Homo sapiens: one gene and its partner. The protein of the gene in region 1 purifies or fractionates together with the protein of each later gene. This does not show direct contact. Each region holds a gene or a part of one and is shown on either strand. Other genes may lie near its edges.

Evidence for each region. Proteins that work in one complex are often made in the same cells at the same time.
Region 2: the proteins of SULT2B1 (region 1) and PKP2 purify together in Homo sapiens (co-immunoprecipitation; one large-scale study listed by IntAct). This does not show direct contact.

The regions. Positions count from the first base shown.
Region 1 is NC_000019.10:48,558,672-48,562,171, reverse strand, and holds part of SULT2B1 (sulfotransferase 2B1), read right to left. Parts: intron 1-3,500. UniProt on the Homo sapiens protein: Sulfotransferase that utilizes 3'-phospho-5'-adenylyl sulfate (PAPS) as sulfonate donor to catalyze the sulfate conjugation. Responsible for the sulfation of cholesterol.
Region 2 is NC_000012.12:32,795,778-32,799,277, forward strand, and holds part of PKP2 (plakophilin-2), read right to left. Parts: intron 522-3,500; coding exon 332-521; intron 1-331. UniProt on the Homo sapiens protein: A component of desmosome cell-cell junctions which are required for positive regulation of cellular adhesion.

The sequences.
Region 1 (3,500 bases):
CAGGTGATCCGCCCGCCTCAGCCTCCCAAAGTGTTGGGATTACAGGCATAAGCCACCACACCTGACCTAATTTTTGTATTTTTAGTAGAGACAGGGTTTCGCCATGTTGGTCAGGCTGATCTCAAAACTCCTGATCTCAAGTGATCCTCCTGCCTTGGCCTCCCAAAGTTCTGGGATTGCAGGCGTGAGCAATGAGCCCGGCTAATTATTGTGTTTTTAGTAGACATGGGGTTTTTGCCATGTTGACCAGGCTGGTCTTGAACTCCCGACCTCAGGTGATCCACCTGCCTCAGCCTCCCAAAGTGCTGTGATTACAGGCATGAGCCACTGCACCCAGCCAAGGCCCATTTTGGAGAAGAGGGGAGTGGGGCTCTGGGATGTAGAGCATCTCACCCACATCTGCCTGATGGGGAACACACGTTAGGTTCGAGGTCCCTGGCTCTGTCCCTTGAAGCCTGACAGTCTCACCGCAGGCCCTGCCCATCCGAGTCCCACTGTAGCTGGGCTGCCAGTGTTCCGTTCTCACTGTCCAGTTTGGCTTGTTCCCTGAATGTCGCATGCTCCACTACACCGTGGAACCGCACCCTGCACGACGCCTGTCGCCTGGGGCTCTTCACTTTTTTTCTCTCCTCCTTTCTCTCAAACACCTCCTCTCTCTCTCCCTTCCAGCATACCTTTATTATTTATTTATTTTATCTTAATTAATTTATTTATTTTATCTATCTATTTATTTATTTATTTTGAGACAGTGTTTCACTCTTGTTGCCCAGGCTGGAGTGCAATGGCACGATCTCGGCTCACTGCAACCTCTGCCTCCCGGGTTCAAGCGAGTCTCCTGCCTCAGCCTCGCAGAGTAGCTGGGATTACAGGCATGTGCCACCACGACCAGCTACTCTTCTATTTTTAGTAGGACGGGGTTTCTCCATGTTGGTCAGGCTGGTCTGGAACTCCCCACCTCAGGTGATCCGCCTGTCTCGGCCTCCCAAAATGCTGGGATTACAGGCATGAGCCACCACACCGGGCCCGAATTTATTTTTTTGAGACAAGATCTTGCTCTGTCTCCCAGGCTGGAGTGCAGTGGTGCGATCTCAGCCCCACAGCAACCTCCGTCTCCTGGGTTCAAACAATCCTCCTGCCTCAGCCTCCCGAGTAGCTGGGATTACGGGCGCCCACCACCACACCTGGCTAATTTTTATTTTTTTTATTTTTGAGACGGAGTTTTGCTCTTGTTGCCCAGGCTGGAGTGCAATGGCAGGATCTTAGCTCACTGCAGCCTCTGCCTCCCGGGTTCAAATGATAGGCCCACCTCGGCCTCCCAAAGTGCTGGGATTACAGATGTGAGCCACCACGGCTGTCCTAATTTCTGTATATTTACTAGAGATGGGGTTTCACCATGTTGGCCAGGCTGGTCTCGAACTCCTGACCTCAAGGGATCCACACGTCTCGGCTTCCCAAAGTGCTGGGATTATAGGCATGAGCCACCACGCCCAGCCTCATTGACAGTTTTTGAAATTGACTATATGTGGAAATGATATTTCAGATAGATTAGATATGTGATTAAAATTAATTTCACTTGTTTCTTTTGTTTTTTTAAAAAGGTGGCTACGAGAAAATGTTTTCCTATGGGCTCACGGTATATATCTATGGAGGGTGGCCAGGGTCATGGAAACCATAAGGGTGACAAGTCCCCCCGAGAAGAAATGGCCACTGAGGGGCAGCCTCTGACTGCAGTTCCAAGCCCCTGTTGGATTCCTTTCTCTGGCATGAGGGTTATGAGTGGGGCCTCAGTTTTCCCATCTGTAAAATGGGCATTGTAACACTGGGACCACACAGGGCTGTTGTGAAGACTCAGTGAGCTCATCCCCACACAGCCTTCAGCACAGGGCCTGGCTCAGGGCAGATGCTCAGGAAGCTCATCATTATTATCATTCCTCACCCATCCCCTCCCTTGCTAGCATTCGAGTTTCTGGCTCAGCAGCGGTCTCAGAACTGGGGAAGGAGGAAAGAGAGAAACAGCACAAATGCTGAGTCAGCTGCGAGCCCAGGTCAGGCCCTTCCCCGGTCATTGCCCGTTTCACAGACGCTCAACCCTGAGGGCAGTCCTTTCTACCAGGAGGGTCCCAGCTCCTGAGCCATAGGGGCGGCATTCGAACCCAGGACTGCCTTCCTGTGGGCATTCTTCTTTTCTTTTTAATTTTTTTTTTTTTTTTTTAAAGAGAGATGAGGGTTTGCTATGTTGCCCAGGCTGGTCTTGAACTCCTGGCCTCAAGCAATCCTCCTGCCTTGCCCTCCCAAAGTGTTGGGATTACAGGCGTGAGCTGTGGCACCTGGCCCCTGCAGGCTTTCTTGCCTGCGGTGTCACGGTCCCCACTTTCCCAGATCCTTGGGGCTCTGGTCCCCACGTAAGTAACTGGCCACACCTCTCTTAGGGCCTCCACTCCAGGCCTCCGGGCAAGGCGAGGGTCTCCCTTCTCAGCCTGGCATTTATTCCATGTCATGGGTGACCCACTGGGTCCCACAGTTCCTCCTCCAGACCCTCTGGGTGGCAAACTGGGCTGCTTAGTTCTTTCCAAATGGGTCCTGAACTCAGCTGGCCAGCATGGCGAAACCCTGTCTTTATCAAAAATACAAAAATTAGCTAGGCATGGTGGCACATGCCTGTAATCCCAGCTACTTGGGAAGCTGAGGCAGGAGAATCGCTTGAACCCAGGAGGCGGAGGTTGCAGTGAGCTAAAATCACGCCACTGCTCTCCAGCCTGGGCGACAGAGCAAGACTCTGTCTCCAAAACAAAACAAAACAAAACAAAACAAAACAAAACAAAAAACAAAACCAAATGGGTCCTGAACTCTGAACATCACCACTTCCAACCTTTCCTCTGCCAGTCCGTACACAGGCCCACCAGGCACAACTGCCTCCCCCCACCCCAAAGAGCGAGTGGAAAGGAAAACGCATCCTGTCCCTCACTCTTCAAGGCTGAGTCCCTCGTCAGGGGCTGGGTGGAGAAGGAGGGAACCGTGAGCATCTTTTTCCACTTCTCCCCAAGTCCCCGCATCCGCTAGTGCTGGCCCCGAAGCCCCTCTCCCTAGTCTGCCTGCCCAAATCTCACCCAGCGGGGAGGCAATGCCTTATTATTTCTTAATTGTTTGAAACCCCTTGATCAGCCCGTCTCAGAAAAAGCAGCTTCAGGCCAGTCGCGGTGGCTCACACCTGTAATCCCAGCACTTTGGGAGGACGAGGCGGGTGGATCATCCGAGGTCAGGAGTTTGAGACAAGCCTGACCTATATGGTGAAACCCTGTCTCAACTAAAAATACAAAAATTTAGCCAGGCGTGGTGGCGCACGCCTGTAGTCCCAGCTACTCAGGAGGCTGAGGCAGGAGAATCGCTTGAACCCCGGAGGCGGCTGTTGCAGTCAGCCGAGATGGTGCCACTGCACTCCAGCCTGGGCAACCAGAGTGAAACTCTGTCTCAAAAAAAAAAAAAAAAAAAAAAGAAAAGAA
Region 2 (3,500 bases), on another chromosome or scaffold:
TACATTCTGCTGTTATTAAATCACAGCTGTGGCTTTGGGAAACTAATTCATTAGGCCAATACAATGCTGGAATGCACAACCAAGAGAAGTTCTGGAGTCTGACCCTCTGTTGATACTTTAGAAGAGAAGGGACAAGCATGTGGTGTGGTGGATTCAGTTCTTTCCTTGGCTGATCACTGAGGGCTGACCAGATGATCTGGCCTGGCTTTACATCCTGTTTGCTGCCATGTTGCACATGATGGTCATGACCGCACATTCACAACCGGATTATTTACACACAGGCTGGTGAGGGGAAAGGGAGGCAGCTGACGGGCAGAACTGAAGGACTTACGCATCGCCTGCACTAATGGCCATAATTTTCTGGATGCCCCCGGTGTTTAGAAGGTCGCGTGCATTCTGGTAACTGTTTTGGATTATGTTGTTCAATGTGTAACAGGCAGAGGCTGTAGTTTCAATGAGAAGGTCAGTACTCGGGACTGTGTCAGGAATGATGGAAACCAAATCAGGGAGAGTTTCTTTGGCTACAAAATGAAAAAAAAAACAAAACACTTGATTAAAAAGATTGTTTCTTAATCCCAAGATCCCAATATATTTTGGGTGAAGAACATTCTTTTTCTTTTTTTGAGACGGAATCTTGCTCTGTTGCCCAGGCTGGAGTGCAGTGGCACCATCTTGGCTCACTGCAAGCTCTGCCTCCCGGGTTCACGCCATTCTCTTGCCTCAGCCTCCCGAGTAGTTGGGACTACAGGCACCCGCCACCACGCCTGGCTAATTTTTTTATTTTTTTATTTTTTTTTATTTTCAGTAGAGACGGAGTTTCACCGTGTTAGCCAGGATGGTCTCGATCTCCTGACCTCGTGATCCGCCAGCCTCGGCCTCCCAAAGTGCTGGGATTACAGGCGTGAGACACTGCGCCCGGCCAAGAACTTTCTTAAAAAGAAACACAGCTGGTTAACAACACATGGAAAGATGTAATTTCCCTAATAACAAATTTTTAAAAATATTTGAAAAGAGGATACTCTGTGCTCAGTATATTGAAAATCTTTTCAGAGTGTAATTTGGCAGAAATGTCAAGAACTTAAAACATTTTCATCTTCTTCAATTCGGTAATTCCATGTCTAGGAATACATCTTAAAAATATCACTTTGAAAATGAAAAAAGCTTTCTACAGAGATCTTTATGACAGTACTACATGTAACTGAAAAACTAAAAAGCCTGAATATCCTTATAATAGGACTATGATTAACTAAAACACACCTGCAAAGACTATTATTCATCACAAAACCTATCTATGAAGCATGTATAATAAAAAGAAAATAATTATGTTAATAGTGTATGTGAAAAATCAGTATATTTATATAAATAATACATAATATTATTGGCCAGGTTCGGTGGCTCACACCTGTAATCCCAGCACTTTGGGAGGCTGAGGTGGGTGGATCACTTAAGGTCAGGAGTTCAGGACCAGCCTGGCCAACATGGTGAAACCCTGTCTCTATTAAAAATACAAAAATTAGCTGGGCGTAGTGGCACATGCCTGTGCCTGTAGTCCCTGCTACTCAGGAGGCTGAGGCACAAGAATTGCTTGAGCTTGGGAGGCAGAAGTGGCAGTGGGCAGAGATCACGCCACTATTCTCCAGCCTGGGCAACAGAGAGAGACCCTGTCTCAAAAAAAAAAAAAAAAAGAATACATACTATTACCAAAAAACCCACGTAAGAAACCTGAGGAAAAATGTTAATAGGAGCTGTTTTTCTACAACAATATTAATAGTGAACTAAAATCTTTTTTTTTTTTTGAAACAGAGTCTTGCTCTGTCACCCAGGCTGGAGTGCAGTGGCGCGATCTCGGCTCTCTGCAAGCTCCGCCTCCCGGGTTCATGCCATTCTCCTGCCTCAGCCTCCCGAGTAGCTGGGATTACAGGTGCCCGCCACCACGCCGGGCTAATTTTTTTGTATTTTTAGTAGAGACGGGGTTTCACCTTGTTAGCCAGGATGATCTTGATCTCCTGATCTTGTGATCCGCCCGCCTGGGCCTCCCAAAGTGCTGGGATTAGAAGCGTGAGCTACCGCGCCTGGCCAAGCTAAAATCATTTTTAAGGCCAGGCAAGGTAGCTCATGTCTGTAATCCCAGCACTTTAGAAGGCCGAGACAGGAGGATCACTTGAGCCCAGGAGTTTGAGACCAGTCTGGAAAATATAATGAGACCCCGTCTCTATTTTAAAAAGTAAAATTAAATAGTAAATAAATAATAAACGAATAATCTTTGCTTCCCAAGGTTTTTCCAATACATAAGTAATACTACTCTTGTTTTTTTTTTTTTTTTGGAGATGGAGTTTCGCTCTTGTTGCCCAGGCTGGAGTGCAATGGCACGATCTCATCTCACTGCAACCTCCGCCTCCCAGGTTCAAGCAATTCTCCTGCCTCAGCCTCCCGAGTAGCTAGGATTACAGGTACGCACCACCATGCCCGGCTAATTTTTTGTATATTTTTTTTTTCAGTAGAGATGGGGTTTCTCCATGTTGAGGCTGGTCTCGAACTCCTGACCTCAGGTGATCTGCCCGCCTCAGCCTCCCAAACTGCTGGGATTACAGGCGTGAGCCACTGCGCCTGGCCTACTATTTTAAAAAGAGAAATAAACTATTTTAAATGTACTTTTCTACTATGTATATAACTTCTTGGTTATAAGTTTTGAGTTTGGCTTTTTTTTTTTGTACTAACAAGAAAGGTATTAAAAAAATAGACATGCCACTTTCACAATTAGGCTATAGAAAATAAAAAAGATACATAGACCAATGGAATAGAATAGAAAACCCAGAAATAAAGCAAAATACTTACAGCCAACTGATCTTTGACAAAGCAAACAAAAACATTAAGTGGGGAAAGGCCACCCTATTCAACATATTCAACAAATGATGCTGGGATAATTGGCAAGCCACATGTAAAAGAATAAAGCTGGATCCTCATCTCTCACTTTATACAAAAATCAACTCAAGATGGATCAAAGATTAAATCTGAGACCTGAAACCATAAAAATTCTAGAAGATAACACTGGAAAAACTCTTCTAGACATTGGCTTAGGCAAAGAGTTCATGACCAAGAACCCAAAAGCAAATGCAACAAAACCAAAAATAAGTAAATGGGATCCAATTAAACTAAAAAGCTTCTGCACAGCAAAATAAATAATCAGCAGAGTAAACAGACACCCCACAGAGTGGGAGAAAATATTCACAAACTGCATTCGACAAAGGACTAATATCCAGAATCTACAAGGATCTCAAAAAAGCAAGAAAAAAGCCAAATAATTCCATCAAAAAGTGGGCTAAGGACATGAATAGACAATTCTCAAAAGAAGATATACAAATGGCATAAGAAAAATTTTTTGATACGCCTCATACATATGAAAAAATGCTCAACATCACTAATTATCATGGAAATGCAAATTAAAAGCACAATGAGATACCACCTTACTCCTGCAAGAATGACCATAATTTAAAAATCAA